Linked DNA regions of Homo sapiens: regions 2 and 3 are each linked to region 1. The links come from fine-mapping of genetic effects on gene expression. A gene starts in region 1. Each other region holds a variant in brackets. All regions are shown on one strand. Distances are from middle to middle.

Evidence for each region. PIP is the estimated chance that this variant, and not a neighbour inherited with it, causes the effect. A credible set is the group of variants that fine-mapping cannot tell apart.
Region 2: its variant is the best candidate, but not a certain one, in a credible set for the expression of TSEN2 in sun-exposed skin (GTEx, PIP 0.64).
Region 3: its variant is the best candidate, but not a certain one, in a credible set for the expression of TSEN2 in subcutaneous fat (FUSION, PIP 0.75).

Annotation. Positions count from the first base shown.
Region 1 is chr3:12,480,867-12,488,390 of GRCh38, forward strand. It overlaps TSEN2 (tRNA splicing endonuclease subunit 2), which reads left to right and starts at 3,614. Exons shown (of 12, transcript NM_025265.4): 1 at 3,614-4,014. RefSeq lists an enhancer at 3,538-3,957.
Region 2 is chr3:12,532,833-12,540,356 of GRCh38, forward strand. It overlaps MKRN2OS (MKRN2 opposite strand), which reads right to left. Exons shown (of 4, transcript NM_001195279.2): 4 at 6,944-7,524. The coding sequence ends at 7,361. TSEN2 (tRNA splicing endonuclease subunit 2) reads left to right here. Exons shown (of 12, transcript NM_025265.4): 12 at 1-826. Among named protein-coding and RNA genes, the nearest start is that of MKRN2OS, 8.9 kb to the right of the region's middle. The variant G/T (reference allele first, on the strand shown) is at 5,613.
Region 3 is chr3:12,426,018-12,433,541 of GRCh38, forward strand. The region is part of intron 7 of PPARG (peroxisome proliferator activated receptor gamma); the gene reads left to right. Among named protein-coding and RNA genes, the nearest start is that of TSEN2, 55 kb to the right of the region's middle. The variant A/G (reference allele first, on the strand shown) is at 3,554.

The DNA of each region.
Region 1 (7,524 bases):
TCCAGCATGACAGATTAAAAGAGCATAAGCCCCGTAGATCCGTATCCTCATCTGGCCTTCACTACTTCCTAGCAATGACACCATGGGCATGTGCGGTAACCTTGGCTGCAGAAGAGAGGTAAGAACACCAATCTCACAGCCCTGTTATGAGAATTAAATAAGATCATGGATGCAAAAGTGGCTGGCACATAGTAAGTGCCCAATAAATTGTCACTAGGGTGGCCAGATAAAATGTGAGGCACCCAGATTAACTTGAATTTCAGATAAACTTTTTTCTTAAGTATATCCCAAATATTACTTGGAGGTTCTGGGCACATTTCACCGATAACTGTTCATTGTGTTAGATGTGCTAGTGATACTGGGGATATGTTGATATAGTCCATCCTCCCTACTCTTGGATTCTGTATTTACAAACTCACCTAGTTGCTAAAACTTATTGGTAACATCACAATCAATACTTCACTGTCACAGTCATCTGCAGATGTGTGCATGCACAGAATACCAAAAAATTTGAGTCACACAGTGTGCACATTCCCAGCTGCAGGTGAACAAGGAGACTCTGCCTTCTTGTTTCAGCTCTCATACCATAAATAAGTATGCTTTTTTGAGCTCTAGTTTGTGCCATGTTTTTCACATTTTTGTGCTTTTTGTTGGTGATTTAACTGTTTAAAATGGCCCCAAGTGGAGTGCTGAAGTGCTGTCTGGTGTTCCCCACCCAAGAAATGTGCCTTATTGGAGAGAATAGGTGTGTTAGATAAGCCTCCTTTAGGCAGGAGTTATAGTGCTGTTGGCTGCGAGTTCAGTGTTGATGAATCAACATATGTAAGGTGTCTTTAAACAGAAACACATGAAGTGAGGTTATATATTGACCAGTTGATGAAAATGCTGTGACCAGAGACTCACAGACACCTAACCTTGTATCTTGTATTTCTCCTGGAAACATGGTTCAGTATTTACTAATTCAGTGTTTGTGGCAACTTTATAGAACAGAATTACCTCAAATAATGAGAATGAACTACACAGTTGATATATGTGTGTGTGTGTGTGTGTGTCTGCGTATATATATATATATATATGTAGATGCAGATGTATTGTAATAAAATTAAGTCCTTATCTATTAGAGATACCTACTGAAATATCATGGATGAAGTTATATCATGTCTGGGATTGTTTTAAAATACTCCAGCAAGGAGATAAAAGTGTGTATATCGAGAATGCAAAAGAAATGAGATACCAAAGGTTGAAGGTTGTAGAAGCGATTTTTTATTTTTGAGACAGAGTTTTTACTCTTGTTGCCTAGGCTGGAGGGCAATGGTGCAATCCCGACTCACCACAACCTCCACCTCCCCGGTTCAAGCAATTCTCTTGCCTCAGCCTCCAGGGTAGCTGGGATTATAGGCATGCACCACCATGTCCAGCTAATTTTGTATTTTTAGTAGAGATGGGGTTTCTCCATGTTGGTCAGGCTGGTCTCGAACTCCCAACCTCAGGTGATCCACCCGCCTCAGCCTCCCAAAGTGCTGGGATTACAGGCATGAGCCACCGTGCCCGGCCAGAAGTGATGATTTATTGGACTGTTTTCTCTACTTTTGTGTTGTATGTTTGAAAATAACCATATCAAAGGGTTTAAAATGCACTTGAGAAAGTCTTGGGGAAAATTTCTTTCTTTTTTAAAATTTACAGATTTTTTTTCTTTTTTTAATTTCTTTTTTTATGTTTTTGGGAGGGGAATTTGAGATCCCATTATCAGCAAACCCCAAATCCTTCCACGAGCTGGGATGGGATTTAAGAGACCTGGCTCTAGTCTCAGCCCCACCTCAGACCTGCTCGGTTATCTCTGACAACTCACAGTGCCACTGGAACTGTTTTCTTATCAGTTAAATAAGGAAGTTTAACTGGACAACCTCTGAATCCCTTTCATTGTTAAAGCCCTCTAATTCTAAAACCAGTATTTCTTAAATTGGCATGTTCTGGTCGGATATTACAGCCTCTCTTCAGCTGTCTCTCCCCTGCCCAATCCATCCTGTTACCATATCCTGTGACTCTTGCCAATTTTCTCCCTTTCTTTTGCAACATTCTTACCACAAAGCTCTTTGATTTTGGTTTATCTAAAACCTGAACTCCCTAGCCTAGCAGTGAAGGTCCTTGCAGCAGAGGACCCACTGAATGCTGCGACATGATCTCACTCTACCAAGAGCAAGCCCACAGTGCAGTTCAAAAAGGGCCAGGCAGGATGCAGTGGCTCAAGCCTGTAATCCCAGCACTTTGGGAGGCCGAGGCGGGAGGATCGCTTGAGGTCAGGAGTTTGAGACCAGCCTGGCCAACGTGGTGAAACCCCGTTTCTACTAAAAATATAACAATCAGCCGGGCGTGGTGGCAGGCGCCTGTAATCCGAGCTACTCGGGAGGCTGAGGCAGGAGAATCACCTGAACCTGGGAGGCAGAGATTGCAGTGAGGTAAGTGAGCTGAGATGGTGCCACTGCATTCCAGCCTGGGCGACAGAGCCAGGCTCCGTCTCAAAAAATAAAAAGGGCCAGAAAAACAGGGACAACACATGCCATGCCAGACTACTGCAGAGCACAGAGGCAAGTCACCCAAGCAGGTCTGGGAAGGCAAGAAGTCTCCTGGAAGAGGTGATATTTGAGCTGAGACCTAAAGGCTGACCAGGAATTACTGCAGCTAACAGAGGGGAGGGAACATAGAGGCAACAGCATGCGTGAAGGAATGGAGGCAAGAACATTGGCAGAAGTCCAAAATTCAACATCCATCATCACATCTAGCACCATGAATCTCTCCAGCAGTATTTGCCACACTTCCTTGCCATCCTCCTTTGCCTCCTGCTTAGTCTGTGTGGTGGAACTCCTGTGATTCATATTTGGGAAAGTATATATTGGACTCCCCACAGGGCTCCTTTAAAATAACCAGGTCAGGAGAAACTTACACTTCCTATTGCACTCCAGTTTTGCTCATCTCCCGTAATTCTGATGGCCCATTTTTCAGTAAACTCAAGCTCAGAAAGGTTGTCAGTCATTCAAGCTCACGCAGCCAGTGAGGGGGGAAAATGGGGATGCAGAGCAGGTGGACCTGCCGCCTATTGTCCCTTAACTGCACAGGCAGTCTGGGCACACAGAGGCTTCTGGCCAGGTGTCTGCCAGAGAAAACGTCCTTGCAAGTTCCCCGCATGCTGCAGCGTACACAGGTGCGCTGCTGTGATCCTCTTTCTACATTGAGAAAGATGAGATCAGTTTCCTCAGGGCCATTTAATAAAGTCCTGTCGGTCGCCTCAAACATCCCATCCACCGAGGGCCGAAGATTCTAGGTCTCTCCCACCTCCCACGTGACTATGTGACATTTGACGGGTAACTGCATCTCATCTGTAAAATGCGTCTTGCAGGATCGTTCTGGCTTCCGTACAATCCTGCAGAGAGCAGCAAAGCGCGCACGCAGCCTCCGCCTCATACTCCGCAGTGGCAGAGCTGGCGCACAGAACACCCGCCAGCCGGCCGTGCGCAGGCGCACTCCGCCAAGTCCCGACGGGAGCTCTGCGGCTGCGCACTCGGCTGGCTTTGCGGCCGCACTGCTTGACGGCAGCGGTGTCCGCCCCACGGCCGGCGTTGCCGGGGTAACGGCGAGCGCGTGGGGCCAAGAAAGGTAAGGGCCCTGGGCGAGGAAAGCGCGGCCCTTTCCGAGTTTGGTGTTTTGCAGCGAAAGGAAATCTCGCTCTTCCGAAAGTCCTCCAGGGCGAGAGAGGAAAGGGCCTAGGTACTGTGCTGGGGTCGCACAGCCGGCCGAGACAGTGCCGGGACGGGGAGCCAGGCTTCCGAGTGCGCCCGGTCACTGACTCCTCCGCGCTTTCCTCGTGCGCCTGCAGCCCTTGGTTCTTGGAAACGCCGGCGCCTTGTTCAGGGCTGGTGGGGCTGGGGCGCAAGGTGCAGCTGACAATGCCCGAGAGGAGCCGCAGCCTCTGGTGGAGTTCGGTCGGGTGTGGGGGTAGTCAAGGAAAGAAGCAAAGGGGTAAGACAGGGAGTTAGGAATTGGCGGGGCCCCTAACGCTGTTGGGGTGCGCAGTTTATTTTATTTGCAGCTGTCGTCTGGTGAGCGCTTTCCACGTGGTAGGCCCCGAACGAAACGCCTTCTGCAAAATTATGCATTTAATCCTGACAACAACTTTCAAAGGCTGGTCATCTGTTTATATGGCTTATTCTCAGGTTCTAACTTGAAAGCTCCCCAGAGGCAGGATTGTTTACCTTGTGCCTTTCATCCTTGCCTCCCTAAGCCCAGGAGGTGCGCAGATGGAGCTTGAAGCGTGTTTTGGTTGGGAGAAGGTGAGATTTGCTGGGTAGGAGGTTTTTTAACCAGGTTTGTTTGGCACCTAGTCCAGGAAGGTTGGAAAATTAAATGGAGCCACCTCTCCCTTTTTTGTTTTTCTAATAGACATTTACCATCACCTAAGAGGTGTTAGCCTGTGTGCTCGAGGGAAGAATAAGAAACAGACTCTGCTTTTAATAGAAAGTAAGAATATGCAGCTCTGGAGTCAGGTTGCGCAGGTTGGGGAAATAAGAAGTAAAGATTTCTCAGGGGTGCGCCCGGCCCCTCCGAGTCACTTTCCACATCTGTACAATGGAAATAAAAATAGTCTTTACCTCCGGGGGCTACTGGGATTAAGTGAATTTGAATAGACCTTGCTGTTACCAGTGGTTAGCTATATGTTAAAATCAGCTGGGTCCACCCAGGAAATTCTGATGTAATTGATTGCAGGTGAGGCCTGGGCATGAGGAGTTAAGGGTAGGTAAGCTTGAGGGCCACTGTGTGATGTACCACTCCCAGGTTTAATTTTCTTAATCTGCATTTTTCAATCATCATTCTAAATAACCTGCAGTGACTCCAATTCCAAACCAACCTTTGCATCCCAAACCTCTTGACAACTGACCCAGTCTTTCCTATATGTTTTTGTGCACCTCAGGCACCGCTCTTCTTTCATATCTGTGGAATGAGGATAGTACAGTCAGCTCTCGCTATCAGGTTCCGAATCTGTGGATTCAACCAATGTTGCATCAAAAATATTTGGAAAAAGAAATTTAAAAATATATATATATAACAATTATTTAGTATTTACATTGTATTAGGTATTCTAAGTAATCTAGAGAAGACTTAAAGTAGATGGGAGGATGGGCATAAGTTACATGCAAATACTACATTTTATTTAAGGGACTTGAGCTGCGGATTTTGGTAGGGGGTGAGTCCTGGAACCAGTCCTTCTGTGGATACCAAGGGATGACTATAGTACCCACATGTGCAGCACATGCAGTGAGTGCCTCTGGCATCTGGTACCTACCTATGACAGTTTCCTCTTCTTATTTTACTCACATCCCACCTCTTACAGCATGCTGTTCTGCCGCGACACTAAAGAACCTTCTTGAATATCCATTGCAGATATGGGGAATGGTAAATGCAGTCTTTTCTCCTCTGCTTTGCCTTTCGAGTTCAGCACAGGAGGACTCTTCCATGAAACTAGAGATCATCTGATTTGTCCTCTTGAATTTTTCCCCCTGGGGAAGTGAGCTCTACCTTCCCTGAGGGTTTCTTTCTATCTTTTCTAGAAGCTTCACGCTGGTATCTGTGAAGTCATTCTTGCAGGACATGGCCTGGGGAATGTCTTTACTTCTGAATTTTTTAAAATAGCTTTATTGAGATACCATATAATTCTGTAAAAGTCACCCTTCTGAAATGTACGAGTCAGTGGTCTTCGTATTCGCGGAGTTATGTAACCATTACCATCACTACAATCTAATTTTAAAACATTTTCGTCACCCTCCAAAATAAACCTCCTGTCTTATTAGCAGTCGCCCCCCCATTTCCCACTTTTCCCTGTCTCTGGCAACTGGTAATCTGTCTCTATGGATTTGTCTATTCCGGAAACTTTATCTTAATTGTCTCGTGGTCTTTTGTGTCTGACTTCTTTTAGCATAATGCTTTCAGGTGTTGAAGAATGTATCCGAACTTCATTCCTTTTCTATGGCTAAGTATTTGATTATATGGATAGACCACATTTTGTTGATCTGGTCAACTATTGATGGACATTTGGATGGCTTCCACTTTGATGCTATTATGAATAATACTGTTGTGAACATTCACATACAAATTTTTCCATGAACATATGTTTTCATTTCTCTTAGGTCTATACCTAGGGGTGGAGTTGCTGGATCATGTCGTAACTATGTGTTTGACATTTTGAGGAACTGCCAGACTCCTCCAGTCCTGTTCGATTTGAAGATGAAACTGGGCTTAGAGAAAGTGGGTTGTGCAAGGTCACACAATAATAATGGCGGCTTTGCATGTCTGGAAGGCCTACTGCGAGCCAAATTCCTGAGGGGTGTGCAGCCACATGAGCAAGAGTAACACAAGAACTTGGATTATGAGGGGTGTTTTGTCGCAGGGACCCTTCCATCCCACACACCTGGGTTGGAGTACAGAGTTCTTTCGATCAAGTGTCACAGCTAAATCTTGCCTTTTTTAGATGTGACAGCAGTCTGAGAGGGAAAAACGCTGAACAAATGAGGCAGACTAAAATACAACTCTTATTTGTTGAGAGAATTTATTAGAACTTCTTGAAGGTGGCCATTAAATCTTTTTTCATTTTTTTAAAATTCCGAATGTAATGTATATAAGTCAGCTGCTGAGCAGAGGTTATAAAAGTGAAAAATCCCATAAAAGTCCAAACCATTCCTGGAAGTCTTTCAAAAAGTGCCTTACTAGAGACCAACATCCTGCCCCCAAAAAGCAGTGTTTATTTTCAGTTTTAGAATAAATTATTGTCTCTCCAATTGAGTACTAAATGTGATAATTTAGTACTTGGGCTGAGGGATAAGTCAGCAAGCAAGGTAAAGCCTAGTCTAAATATGCTCTTAAGAAAATCTCTTAGGTTTCCTGTGAGCATGCAGTAGACGTGGTTTTGTTATAAACACTATACAGCAAGATGCATGCATAAATATAAAATGTACAAAGTAATGCTCAGTATGTAATTCCTTCAAGGAACCTTATTTAGAAATTAATCTAGCATGTTGCTGCTTAGAACAATGGCAATTCTAGGAAGGTTCCAACTTCCCGATTCTTCTTTTTCATGGTTATCTTTGTAATTGATGTATCATTTCCTCTAACTCCTCTTTAGTCTGTGTTTTTCTGTGTCCTCATATAATTCCTCAGCTTCTTCCTTGAGAAGTTGGATACTGATATCATCACACGTTGGATAAGCCTTTTCTTAATGGTCATGACACTCTTAAAGCCACTCACCTTCCCCTCCCTCAGTTTTGGCCACCTTCTTGACTGTTTCAGGCTTGATGGCATCCCTTGCCAATGGGATGCAAGTACTGAGTGCAGGAGCCACCTAAGTAATTAGTCTTATTTTTTCCCTTGTGAGGATTCGGAGTCATGTAGGTTAAACGTGTGTATGATTTGGCCGCACTGTATCTTCAAGCACCAGGTAAGCTCTCAGTTGAAATCAAGTCTAGACCTAGTACTGGGGGA
Region 2 (7,524 bases), 52 kb after region 1:
CTCCCAGCACCAGAAAACTATCAGTGTTTTTAAAGATAAATTACACAAGGGAGGAGAAAGATCCCTGTGCTAGGACTGCAGATTCTATACTTGCGTTGGCCTCTAACTCTCCAATCCAGAGCCTCCTGCCTCTGGCGTCAGTCTTTTCCCTCATCCACTCACTGGGGAGATTGGACTAGAGGAGTCCTGAGAGGACACTTCCAACAAGAGACATTTATTCTCTGATTTTACCTGAAAATGGTAGTAGTTTACATTTATACAGTACAGTTTATGAAGCACTTTCATACGCAGGCATCTCTTGTTACCTACATCTAAGCTGTTCCCGAAAGAGTGTTACAGAACACAACAGTATTGTACAATATTCGATAAGCATATCTTCACTGCACTTGTTATAAAAATGAGTGGTGAAATAATGTTTGGAGACATAATGAAAGCGATTAACATTTGGCAAAATATAATAAAGCCTTTTTGTAATTGGTGAGAAAGTCATGAAGACTTAAGTTGCCTCAGGGCATCTGGTGGCAAGAGGAGGGAGATGGGTGGCTGGGCATGGTGGCCCATACCTATAATCCCAGCACTTGGGAGGCCTTGGGAGGCCAAGGCGCATGGATCGCTTGAGCCCAGGAGTTGGAGACCAGCTTGGGCAACATGGTGAAACCTCCTCTCTACTAACAAAAATTATCCAAGCATTGTAGCACATGCCTGTAATTCCAGCTGCTCAGGAGACTAAGGTAGGAGGATCGCTTGAGCCCAGGAGGAAGAGGTTGCAGTGAGCGGAGATTGTGCCACTGCAATCCAGCCTGAGCAATAGAGCAAGGTCCTGTCTCAAAAAAAAAAAAAAAAAAAAAAAAAAATGTGGGTGGTGGGGAAATGGGAAGGGGGAATACTTGCTCTTCGGTGGTAGAATACTTAGGCTAAGGTGGTAGCCTGAGCTGTATCCTCTTAATGGGTCCAGACACTACTTGAATGATATTGCTGCAAACCCTTACATGTTTGTTATATTTAATTTGGATAGCCAATATGGGGTAAAATATTTTGCAAACCGTGATAGCAAACATTTGGAGAGTGGGAGTTGAGATGCGGCAGATGCCTGTGTATTTATCCCTGCAGCAGCCTTGTGAATTCAGGAGGAGGGACCCACAGAGGGGTGTTTGAAGCTCAGAGATGTTGGCGGGTGTGCATCACTACCAGTCATGCACGTGGAGGACTGGACCTGAGATCACTATCTCAGCTGAAATGGCGCTATCCTAAAAATTGCATGCAGTCAGAAATAGAGCCCTGTTTGGTGGTGGTGGTGGTTAACAAGGAAGGCCACCCACCACATCGGGCAGGGCCAGCTTTGTGCTCCCACACAGTCCTCTACCTCGGGTGGGGTGCAGCCTGAAGCCCCCTTACTTACTGGTTATGCCTGTGATTTTGCAAACAGTGTCAGAAAGATTCCATGACGACCACCTATGGATCCAAGGGTAAGAACCTTGGTGCAGTGTGTGGTACTTGGCTTTTAATTCCCCAGAGAGAATTCTGAAAACTGAGTAGTGAAATGAACCTTCTAGAAAGGAATGCTTCAAATCTCAGCTCTGCTTCCCTGTGGTGGTGTGCCTTGGGCAGTTTACTTGCCCTTGATAACCTCAATTTTCTTATTTCTAGCATGTGGCTAATGATGTTTACCTAATCGTGTGGTTGTGTGGGTAAAGGAGAGCCCAAAAAACACTGTAATCCCAGCACTTTGGGAGGCCGAGGTGGGTGGATCACGAGGTCAGGAGATCAAGACCATCCTGGCTAACACGGTGAAACCCCGTCTCTACTAAAAAATACAAAAAAACTAGCTCAGGCGTGGTGGCAGGGCCTGTAGTCCCAGCTACTCAGGAGGCTGACGCAGGAGAATGGCATGAACCCAGGAGGTGGAGTTTGCAGTGAGCCGAGATCGCGCCACTGCACTCCAGCCAGGGCGACAGAGCGAGACTCTGTCTCAAAAAAAAAAAAAAAAAAAAGATTAGCTGGGTGTGGTGGTGGCACCTGTAATCCCAGCTTCTTAGGCTGAGGCAGGAGAATCACTTGAACCTGGGAGGTGGAGGTTGCAGAGAGCCGAGATCAAGCCACTGCACTCCAGCCTGGGGGCAGAGTGAGACTCCATTAAAAAACAAAAACAAAAAAAACCTGAAGTTTCATTGTTACTTATTGACAACTTTAAATTGATAATTTAAAAAAATTTGTCTTAATCATTTTACCTTTATTGTTACAACGTATTTGCTTTCTCTTTTTTTAAGAAAAAAAAATTCTATTTACTTGAATGTGGTTCTTATTTTCACCCTTGTGGAGAATTACTTGGATTAAAAAGAAACAAATTTTCTCTCCTCCCCACCACCCACCTCCCATGTATGATTTTACTAACTGAATTGAATTTTTAAAATCTCATTACAGACTTGAATAATCATCCCATGAATGTTAACTCCCCTAACACTATAACCGAGGCCCATTTCTAAAGTTGATCTTAAAACTGGAAAATTTGAGTCTATCTAATTTTGTGAAATATAGGGATGCCTTTTACATGATGTAAAAGTCATATTTGTAAAATGGTTAAACTAGGAGGCAATATTTTTATTGCAAGTATGATCTCTTAAGTGAAAGGTTTCTGTCATTTAAAATTTTTAGAGTCTTTATATTTTCATAAACAGTATTTCAAAGGCAAATGTTCTTTCTAACGTTGTGTGTGTGTGAGATGGAGTTTTGCTCTTGTTGCCCAGGCTGGAGTGCAGTGGTGAGATCTTGGCTCACTGCAACCTCCACTTCCTGAGTTCAAGCGATTCTCCTGTCTCAGCCTCCCAAGTAGCTGGGATTACAAGTGCCCGCCACCATGCCTGGCTAATTTTTGTATTTTTAGTAGAGACAGGGTTTCACCATGTTGGCCAGACTGGTCTCGAACTCCTGACCTTAGATAATCTGCCTGCCTCGGCCTCCCAAAGTGCTGGGATTTTCCTAACTTTTAAATGGCACATTCTGGTAAAGTAGAATCAGAAAACTCGGGTCCACATTTCAAATCACCACTGGGAAAACAGGGGCGACGTTGGAAACGTTGCTTGATCACTCCGAGCCTTGGTTTCCTCAACAGTAAAATAAGAATAATTACCACCTCCTCAGTTGCTTTGCAGACTGAATGAAATGAGATGACATACAAAAGCGTCTGGCACACAGTAGGTGTACTTTTCCCCTTTCAGACAAAGTGTAAGCATTGCCATCCTTATTTTCTCTAGGAAGTGCAAAGCCTATTTTATGCCCTGGTAGGTGAGTCAGTGGAGGAGAAGAAGGTGGTAGAAAAATAGCTGGAGGTAAAGTAGTGAAGACAGCAGAGGAGATTGGGAGGAGAGGCAATACTGTAGTAAGCACCTGCTATACACAGGGAGCTAGATGCAGCCATTGTGGGGTTTTGTTTTGTTTTGTTTTTTAGTAATGGTAGGTTTTCCTGGTTCTAGGAGTAATTCATGCATGCTGTAGAGGCTTTGGAAGATTACCTTTGTATAGATCATTTTAGTGTTTCAGATAGGAAACACTGTGGCACTTGCTGTGAAAAGGATCCTGGTGGTCATCCCATGAACATTGATTGAGTCCCAGATGTGTGCTCCGGGGAGTGCTGAACAATGGAATAAAGAAGCACATCTCAGGAGGTGCTGGGAAGAAACTTGGGATTTCATCTGGGGAACAGAGTTGCTGCCAGTGCTTCAGTTAGCATTTAGCTGGTACGATAAAGGAAACTTAATCTAAGGAGTCTCAGTTCATAATTCTACAGACTGAGCAACATTGCCATCTGTTGGTGTAAATCAATGGCTGATTTCCTTTATTAGGGGCAAAACCTATAGATTGGTATGTGGTCTTATTTATAAGAGGAGGGGGCCAGGCGCGGTGGCTCATGCCTATAATCCTAGCACTTTGGGAGGCCGAGACGGGTGGATTGCTTGAGGCCAGGAGTTCAAAAACTAGAGTGGCCAACATGGTGAAACCCCGTCTCTACTAAAAATACAAAAAATTAGCCGGACGTGGTGGCAGGCACCTGTAATCCCAGCTACTCAGGAAGCTGAAGCAGGAGAATCACTTGAACCCGGGAGGTGGGAGGTTGCAGTGAGCTGAGAGCACGTCACTGCACTCCAGCCTGGGCAACAAGAGCAAAACTCCGTCTCAAAAAAAAAAAAAGGAATTCGTAGCCTGCTGAAGTGAGAGAGAAGAAATATGAGGCCAGCTCTTGCCAATGTCACCTCCAGGTTGGAGAGCACCCCCTAAAATAAGAAATGGGGACCATCTAAAGCTTTCCTTGAAAATTAAGGGGTGAGAATCCCAGCACTTTGGGAGGCTTAAGTGGGAGGATCACTTGAGACCAGCCTGGGCAACATAGTGAGACCCCGTCTTTACAAATAATTTTAAAAAATTAGCTGGGTGTGGTAGCATGCATCTGTAGTCCCAGCCACTGGGAAGGCTGAGGTGGGAGAATTGCCTGAGCCCAGGAGGTTGAGGCTGCAGTGAGCCGTGATTGTGCCTCCGGAATCCAGCCTGGGCAACAGAGGAAGACCCTGTCTCCAAGAAAATAAATAAATGAAAAAGAAAAGAGCTGCAGCCCCTAAGGGAAATTAGCATGAAATAGGCATTTCTTATATTATTTATTTTAGCTGACTTTTATTGTTTACCTCCTTTCCATGTTTGAATGTTGATAAAAGCAAATCCTCATTTTCTCCTTTTTCTTCTCTAATGATGGCAAAGTATTGACCCAGTTTCTGCACATACTAGGTACAGTTGGTCCCTTTCGATTTGCTGGGGTTGTCCTCTTGACCACTGCAGTGTGGCCCAGGGGTTAAGGGCACAGCTTTCATGGTCAAACCCTGGTTTGAACCCCAGTTTTGCCACTGTATGACTTTGGACATTTCCTCAATTTCCCTTTTCATCTATAAAAGAAGCATAATGTTAAGACCCACCTCAGAGGATGGTCTTGAGGATTGACAAGGAAGAATAAGTGTTTCTTCTGGTGGGGAGTCCTTTATGAATACTCATTAAATGCAGCTGCCGTTACTACTAATAATGAGTAAAGAATTAGACTAGAGAAGCTGAATCCTAGTATAAAATGTGAAGAAATGGGGGCAAATTGGAATTCTTTCATCTTTACCCTCTGGGGTTTTGTTGATTTCTTGAACACCATGGAATACTAGTCATAGTTCTGCTTAAAATGGTATCAAATTCTGGGTGGGCAGTTTTGTGTTTGAAGGAAAGTACCTGAGCTTGTAAATGCAAATGTCGCTATGCCATGCATTCTTTCCCATTGACGTTAACTGTGCTGAAACATGGACTAAATGCCTATTTGGAAACAAGCTTTAAGGATCTGTAGCAAGTTTTCTGAATATCTTTATTACTAATGTTAAAGGATAAAACACATTAAAGTTTATTTGAGCAAACAGCCATTCGTGAATCAAGCCGCACCAAAACTGAAGTGGTTCGGGCTCCCGAAAGAGGGTGTGAAGGGAGGCTTTTAGAGGGTGTGTGAGGAGGCACAGGAGAGAAGTTGGTTGGTTAAAGTTTGAGCAGTTGTCTTATTTAGGTTATCCCAGTGGCAAGTATCTGATTGTGTAACTAAC[G/T]CTCAGTTGGCCATTTAGGATTGGCTGATCTGAAGTTTCATTTAGTTTAATTTGGAACTGGGTGTTGGATCCATCTCGGTGTAATGGCTTCCCCCTAAGTTATTTTAACACGAGGCGGTTATTGGTACCTTTAAGATGGGTTTCATTTTTGGAAATTAGACATCAGTTAGTACCAAGGCTGGGGAATAAGATTAAGTGAAGTAGTACATCACATTTGGTCAAAAACAACCAAGTTCTGGAAGAAGTTTCCAAAGAGGAATTTGGGAATGTTTTGCATGTTGGCCTTTTGAAGTTCGATGATTGTTTCAGTGCACAAACTCCAACATACTTGTTAAAAATTACCTCATTTCTTTACAGTTTCTCATCCCAGTTTCCCCAGCCTCCTGTGAAGGTGTCAGAGAAAGAAGATAGCCCTCTCTTCATGTGCTTTCTGAACTCTGCCTTTTCAGTGGGCAGAGGAAGTGCTTTGTAGCAGCAAACCCAACCCCTGAGCCTCCATGTGTCGGGTCAGGCAAAATGAAATTGACACAGGCTGGAATTTTACTGATTTCAGTCATTGCTGGGCTCGTTTGTGCAAATAGACTCAGAAGAGCTCCTTTAAAAGGAGTGACCATTTCCTGATTTAGATTCTGAGGGGGTTTTTGGTTTTTTTTACTGTTGTTCACTATCATGAGCTTACCATGTGCTTTTTTCTTTTTTTTTTTCTTGTGATGTAGTCTCGCTCTGTCGTCCAGGCTGGAGTCCAATGCTGCGATCTTGGATCACTGCAACCTCTGCCTGCTGGGTTTAAGCGATTCTCATGCCTCAGCCTCCTGAGTAGCTGGGATTACAGGCACGCACCACCACACACGGCTAATTTTTGTATTTTTAGTAGAGACGGGGTTTCACTATGTTGGCCAGGCTGGTCTGGAACTCCTGACCTCAAGTGATCTGCCCGCCTTGGCCTCCCAAAGTGCTGAGAGTACAGGCGTGAGCCACTGCATCCAGCTCTTAGCATGTGCTTTTAAAGTAAAAACCACGAGGAGAAGGTACTCATTACTTCATAACTTGTGTCTCACCCACCTTGCTGTCTTCACATCCCCACTTTCTGTATGCACATTGGAAGGTGAATTTGTTCAGCTCACATTAATTTATAGGAATAATTTTCATTGCTCTGTGAATAAAATGTGCTACCACTTTATGCTGTAAATGGATTCTTAGTTTAAAAACCTCATTGATATGAAAATAATTTTGTTGGAATGCATATAATTTTTAAAACCTAGGGCAATTTTTATTTTATGAAGTCTTATGATGTAGTAAGCTGACATATGCTTGAAGGAAAGCCATACACGTTTTTATTTTTTATTTTTTATTTTTTTGAGATGGAGTTTCACTCTTGTTGCCCAGGCTGGAGTGCAATGGCACGATCTCAACTCATCCCAACCTCCGCCTCCCGGGTTCAAGCGATTCTCCTGCTTCAGCCTCCCTAGTAGTTGGGATTACAGGCATGCGCCACCATGCCCAGCTAATTTTATATTTTTAGTAAGGACGGGGTTTCTCCATGTTGGTCAGGCTGGTCTCAAACTCCCAACCTCAGGTGACCTACCTGTCTTAGCTTCCCAAAGTGCTGGGATTACAGGTGTGAGCCACCATGCCCGGCCCATACACGCTTTTATTAACCACAGTTAAATGCATTTAGAAATCCATAGTACTGATTAAAGGTAGCAACCACCCTACCCTCCAGCGTCCAGGCTGCGCTTACATAGCTCTCAGCACAAACCGCCGCCCTCAGGGGGTTGTGCCTGCTGCTGGGGACAGTCAGTGACGTAGAAGCCATGCTCCCGTATCGCCCGGTAGAGTGTGATGAACTTGGATGCCAGCCTTGTCCGCGGGACCACGTACTTCTCCGTAAATTCACCCTTGTCCAGTTGCT
Region 3 (7,524 bases), 55 kb before region 1:
CACTGTTTTGTGGTTTGGGAGTTGCATATTGGAGGTGGGAGTGGAGTGTTGAGATGAGGCAAGTTGAGATGTAATCGCTATTTAATGGGCAGATCAAAGAAAACATTGGCTGGTTTGATTTTTATTATGGTTATCCCGCTCCACCATCCTGGCCCAGTCATATATATTATTGTTATCAGGCATAGATAGGGGAAGCAATTAAATGTGAAACTGTTATTTAAACCGGCAAGTGTCAGAATGTTAACCCACTTCAGAGCGAAGGCTCTACCAGCAACATGTGTGTTCACTGCAGAATGTGCTGGTTACAGATGATCTTTATCTGTTTGTCAAAGCATTTGCAAGATCTCTATTTTATGTCATCCCCTTTCCCTGAAAGCAGCAGCAGTAAACGACATTGCTCCTCAAATCATCCATGGCTCAGACCTCTGATTAATTTAAGCTGGCCCTGCTAGCGTTCTTATAAATCCCCAGCAAGATGCAGGCCCAGGAGTGGAAAGGGGAAAACATCCGGAAAGCAGCGGGGGGCAGGGAGGGGGAAGGCTGAAGGGAAAAGAAAAAGGCTGAAGGGAGCAATAATTGAGGAAGAAAGAATAGGAAAAATGTAGAAAGGACCCAAGAAAATCAGAGAAATGAGAGGAAAAGAAAGGTAAGAAGAAAATGAGGCAAGTTTACAGAGCAGTAATGAAAATAGTAATAGCTAATTTACTGTACAACAGACACTGTGCTAAGCACTTTCCGTATGTCCCTCAGTCCTCTGACCAACACTATGAGTTAAATTACCGCTACAGCTCCAATTGTTAAAGTGAGGAAACTGAAGTATAGAAAGGTTAAGGAACTTGCCCAAGGTTACCTAGCTTGCAAAGTTGTAATTCCAACTGCGTCTCACTCAGCTGGCAGTGTGCACCCTTGGCCACACATTAGAATCACCCAAGAGCTATTAAAAATCCTGAAGGTCATACCCCAGGCAAGTGAATCAGAATCTCTAGGGATGGGTCCCAGGCATTCGTTTGCTTTTTTAGTCTCCCCAGATAATTTTAATATGTAGCCAAAATTGATAATCCCTGCACTAGACCAAGCTCCGATTCAAATTTAAATATTAAGAGGACACATGTATAACTTTGCTGAATAATTTTTTCCTATCGGTAGGATGGTGGGAAGGAATTGCTATAGGCCACACCATGATACTTTGCTGAATTGGATCAGAAAAGTACCCTCAAATTCCCAGCATCATTTCTTCAAGGAAGTAGTGAATTGGGGCACCGTGGGTTTTTTGTTTTGTTATTGTTCTTAAACCACCTTGCCTATGTGCACTCAACTACAGGAACGAGAACTTGCCTGAAACCCCAAACGTGTCTGCATCAGGCATTATTTTTCTTGAGCTCCTGAATTTCTGCTCTAACCAAGAACAACTCAAAAACCTTCAATTTCATAACTGTTGATATGCCACCCACTCCTACTTACACTCCTGACCCCAACCCCATGGAAACTGCCTTTATTCGAACAAACACAAGAATTATAATATGTTCTAAAGTTCCTCTACCTATTTCATTCTCACCATACGCTTATGAAAGAAATGTCATTGTCTTGAAAACTAAGCCTAAACCCAGAAAGATTAGATGATTTGTCCACAGGCACACAGAAACTAAGTGGAAGAGAAACAGGACTCAAGTCTTCAGTTTCCCAATCCACTGCCTCCTAGAACATGCCTGTGAACTGAGGGAGCAGTGCAATAAAGGAAACTTGAGAGGAAGCGCAAAAGGAACTTAAATTGCAAAGTACTGGGTTCCCTAAGTAGCCCTGCCTCCCCTCCAGTTTTCAGCCCACACCTGAACTAAGGTCTTTCATTGTCTGTGGATCAATTTACAGCTGCCCTGCAATCACATTTGTTTTGTTTGTTTGTTTGTTTTGGTTTTGAACGCCCTAGGGACAGTCGGTTTCAGATTAGTCTCTATCAGAGAGCCAATAGGGAAAGATGCAGAAAGCCAGGAGAGCAGCTCCTAGAATAGAGACAAAACCACCTGCATTTTTTCTGCCTCTTCTTCAGGAGACTCCACTGTGGTCATCTGGTTCCCTAATTGAGACACCTCCTGAGAAAATCTGTGCTAGGGAAACACCCAGCCCAGGTGGGCAGATCTCAAGAGGACCAGAACGTTTGAATCTGCTTCAGATAAACCCTCCACTTAACAGTACCAGATCTGGACGAGATGGAAGCTTTGTAGATTTGCCCATAATCCACAGTGCTCTGTAATCAATTCCAGGACCGTGTGGATGGAGACCGGAAAGGTTTCTTTCCCAATTCTTCACAGCCTGGGGAGTAGGGAACTAGTAATTGACTCCAGCCTCCTCGAGTGCTAAGTCCTGGAGTCTGAGTCACACACACTTCCCAAAAGGGCCTTCTAAGCAGCCTACCCCAGCAGAGAGGACCCTTGGCCCTGGCCCTACTCCAGACTCAACTGTAACCTCAGCAAGGTGCAGGGAGAGGATCTCAGGTGGGCCTCCTGGCAACAGTGCCTTTTCAGGCACTAGGCTGTTGGGAATGGAGAGAGAAGAGAAAGGCCCTGGCACTGTCTGGGTATTTGGATGGATTTCTGTGGCACAACTGTGGCACCTGGCTTAGCTCAGTAAAGGACTGAGTGTGCGTGGAGCAGAAAGGGGAAAGAGACTAGTGGGGAGCTGGTGACCAGTTGGAGGGTGGAGGGTAGGGAACAACCCTGGCAGATCCATTTTGCCCTTGACTAGAGCTTAAAGACCAAAGGAAGCGTTCTTGTTTTTAAGTAAGTCAGGTGTTCTAAGTTTAATGTTAATATGCTTTTTCAATTAGATGTTTGAGTATATTTCCCCAGTTGAATTATGTAGAGGGAATTACAAATGAGAATACATCTTACAATTTTTGAATTAGAATCTTTGAGATTATCTATTTAGTCCGGTCTGTTTTGTTTAGACAAGAAAATTGAGCCCATTGATCTTAATCAGTTTGCCCAAGGTCACAGAGCTGGTGAGTGAAAGCTTTAGATGTAGAATATGCAACTTTTCTCTGCTGCCCTCCTTCCCTAAACCATCTTGCCTTAACGGAGGCTCAGTCAGGGGGACAATGGGACTGATCTGTAAATGATCTAACTTGTCATTGCAGAAAATATACTTACTCCGTGGCCACAAAATTTCAGCCCTTCAGCCAAGCTTCATCCATCACATCATAAAGAATAACTTGCCAAAGAGGGGTTTGAAAATCCAAACCAGATCCCTCTCCACTCCTAGAGAGGCCAGTTCCATGACACTGCACCGGAGCCAAGTGTTTCCAGCAAGCCCTGATCAGTTGCATGTTAGTCCTTGTTTGTATGATAAACGGGACCTAGTAGATTAACATCATCTCCTCAGCCCAAGGGCTGACCCCAGTGGTGCTGCTCAAGAGGAAGGAGGAGGCTGGGAGCGGTGGCTCCCGCTTGTCATCCCAGCACTTTGAGGGGCTGAGGAGGGCAAATCTCTTGAGCCCAGCATTCAAGAGCAGCCTGGAAAATGTAGAGATTCTGTCTCTACCAAAAAAAAAAAAAAAAAA[A/G]AAGAAGCAGGTGGAGGAAGGAGGAGCTGCAGAAAGGCTCCGGGAGCCAGTGTCTAGTAAGCAGAGGCCTAGCCCAGGCTGAGTGGTCCCAGCCCAGGAGGGCCTCTCTCGGCACCTGTCTTTAGATGCACGTCTGCCTCTGGCCTTTGAGATGCACACATTCATCAAGCAGGAGGATCTGTAGTCATTAAACCAAGGTGCCAGTCTGGGGCCCAGCCTTCAATGAAGCATCAGTGGCTTTTTCATTCCCATAGAGCAACTGCGAGGAAGACCCCATGCTCCCAGGGGCCCAATTCTCCAGGCCAGGACCAGATCATTTGTTCCTTCTCAGAATCTGAGATCTTTTGCTGATGGTTCCAAAATTGAATGCTGAAATCTAAAAAGAAAATTATACTTACTCTGGTCAATGGGATATGTTGGAGACCTGAGAGTGAAAAAATCAAACTGAAGACCAGTTTCCTTCTTTAATGGAAGAAAAGTAAGAAAGTTAACTTAGAAGAATATTTAGAGTTCTGAAAATCCCACTCTGAGACCACTCTGCCATCTCACATTGTTCTCTTGAGCCTTATCTCAATGGATAAAGGTCACTAGAGTTTATTAGACACAGGAAAACATCGTTTACAGACTTCTTCATTGTGTAGGGATTCTGCCTTCAGGCCTGTTCACCAGCCAGGAGAATTGTGCTTTTTGATCCAGGGCTCTTGGCCAGAACAGCCTTCTCGCTCATTAACTCAGTCAACCAAATGCTTCCTGTGTTTCCACTGGTGGTTCAGAACGTAGTCTCTGCCCTCTGATACCTCACGGTCTAACGGGGGAGAAACAAGAAAGTCAGAACTTACAATACAAGATAATAAGGAATAAGAGCAGAGCCTTTGGAACCAGACAGACTTAGATCCAAATGTCAGCTCTGCATTTACTAGCAAGTGGTCTATCTTGGTAAGATGCAACTCTTTTCTCTAAGTCTTAATTTCTCCCTCTGTAAAGTATGACCTCATGGGGTTATTGTGAAGATTAAATGGCATATCGTATATAAGGCCCTTGGCACGATCTTTGGAAAATAATAACCATTCAGTGAATGTAATCTACTAGTATAGTAGCGATTGAGGTGTTTATAGGGTGCTATGAGGGCCCAGAGAAAGGAGATGAGATGAACAGGAGAGAGGAAGGGATACTGTTGAGGAAGGATTTCAGGATGGAATCCCACCACAGGCTGTATTTTGAAGAAATGGTTGAAGTCAATAAGAAGAGTGAAGGGAAGGTGAGAATGTTTCAGGCAGGAAGAATAAAATCTGAATAAGTGCAGAGTCCTGACAGAACATAGGGTGTTTGAGGAACTTGGTATGGAAATAGATTAATATGGCTTAACATGGAGCAAAATGAAACAGAACTGAGACTAGAGGATGACCAGGACCAGGTCATGAAGGACATTAAAGGTGGGTAAAACTCATACCATGAAGGAGAGAAGAGTTACAGTTTTTAAAAGAAAATAAATAGCCTTCAGGAGCTCAAATTTGAAATCAATACGAGATAGATGATCAAGTGAATGTTCTGTCTTCTTGATGAGCCTGACTGAGAAAACCTTATAATCTAACCCAAGGCAACAAACTGAGAAATTAGAAAATAAAACTTAGAGATTAGAAAACAAAAACTGAAACCCAAACTTTTTACTTGGAAATTTAAAAACATGCTTCTATATAACTCTTAGGTTAAAAATGAAATCAAAATTGTAAGACAAGCTGTTTAGAAAAGAACTATGAGAGTACCGTTTATCAAAGCCCATGGGATGAAACCAAAGTGGCACTAAGAAGAAAATGTGGAGGCTTCAATGCATTTATTAGAATACAAAGAATACCAAATCAAATGAATTAAGCATTCAACTCAAGAAAACTAGAAAAAGAGAAGAAAGTAAACCTAAAGAAAGTTTTAAAAAGGAATTCAATAAATTAAAAACAAAACACACAATTTTTAAAAACAGACTTGATTAATAAAACCAAAAGCTATGTCTTTTTTAAAAAAGCAAAAAATAGATAAACCTTTGACAAATCAGATTTTTTTAATGAGAGAATGCACAAATAAAGAGCTCTAAGAGCTGGGCATGGTGACTCATGCCTATATTCCCAGCACTTTGGGAGGCTGAGGCAGGAGGATTGGTTGAGGCCAGGAGTTTAAGACCAGCCTGGGCTACGTAGCAAGACCCCACCTCTACAAAAAATTTCGAAATTAGTTGGGTGTGGCGGCTCATGCCTATAGTCCCAGCTACTTGGGAGGCTAAAGCAGGAGGATCACCTGAACCCAGGAGTTGGAGGCTGCAGTGAGCCATGATCATGCCACTGCACTGGGCAACAGATTAAGACTCTGTCACAAAAAAAAAAGCGTTAAGTTAAGGAGCGTGAATAAAAATAATACATTTCATATTCTAAGACAATATCATCTACAACTTTATTCCAATATAAATTACTAAAACTTTACCATATAAGTAGTAGAAAGCCTGAATAGATAAAAGCTATGGAAGAAAAATTAAAGATAGTGATAGATTTATCACCAAGCTCAGATGGTTCTGCAAACAAATTCTAAGAAACCGTCAGGGAACAGATCATTACTGCGTTGACACAGAAGGCAAACCTCTCAACTTGGTGTATAAGGCTAGTTAACATTGTTACTAAAACAGGCAAAGAATGGCCCCCAAAATAACTCTAAACCAGTATCACCTACAAATACAAAAACTCTATATAAAATATTAGCAAGTGAGTACAAGAGTATAAGGAACTCTATTAATGTAATTCACTGTGCTAGGTTAAGATAAAACCATAACTCTTCAGATATCATAGCTCTTTAGATAGAAAAATGTAAAAGTATTTGATAAAAATTCAACAACATTCCTGACTAAAACAAATTAAAATTGTAAAACCCCTGGAAAGCCAGGAGTAAAACATGTTCTCCATAATCTATAGCAAACATCATAGTTGCTGATAAACCATTAGAAGCATTTCCTTCAAAGTTAGGAATAAAACAAGAATTGCTACTATTGCTACTATTATTTAATCCCATATTGGAGGTTTTAGCCAACACACTATGGCAAGAAGAGGAAATGAGAAAGGTTAATGCTGCAAAAGAAGAAATAAATAAAGCTACCATTGCTGATATAATTATCTATCCAAAAAAAGTAGAAATCCATGATTAAAAGCTATTTGAACTGATAAAAGTTCAGAAAATTGGAATTGTTTCAATATACTAAAATCAATTAGTTTTCTGCACATCAGTGGGGATATATTAGATGTAATGAAAATGAAGGGTCCATTCACAATAGAAGCTATAAAGTATTTGAGAATAAATCTAACAAGATCTACATAAAGAAAAAAGTAAACTGCTTAAAAGTAATTTAAGTTCACCATTTGCAAATTGAACTAAAGAAAAATCTAAAGAAGAACTAGTGAAAATTGCTTGCAATCTTACCACTGAAAAGAAACCTCTGTTAAAATGTATCAGTATTTTAAAACTGTGTTTTGTCCTTTGGAAATATGCCATATTAAGCAAACATAGCATAAGCAAATTAAGCAAAAAGACAAACCTTTTTTTAAAAGCATATTTGTGAAAAAAGCATATTTGAAGCTATGATAAGAAACTGAGTAGAAGCTATAAAACGTAGATTCATCAGGAAGGAGCAGAAGTTGAAAAGGAGATTTCTGGCTGGGCACAGTGGCTCATGCCTGTAATCCCAGCACTTTGGGAGGCCAAGGCGGGTGGATCACTTGAGGTCAGGAGTTTGAGACAAGCCTGGCCAACATGGTGAAACCCTATCTCTACTAAAAATACAAAAATTAGAAAGGCGTGGTGGTGAGCACCTATCATCCCAGCTACTCAGGAGGCTGAGGCAGGAGAATAGCTTGATCCCGGGAGGCATAGGTTGTAGTGAGCCGACGTCATGCCACTGCACTCCAGCCTGGATGACAGAGCAAGACTCCATCTCAAAA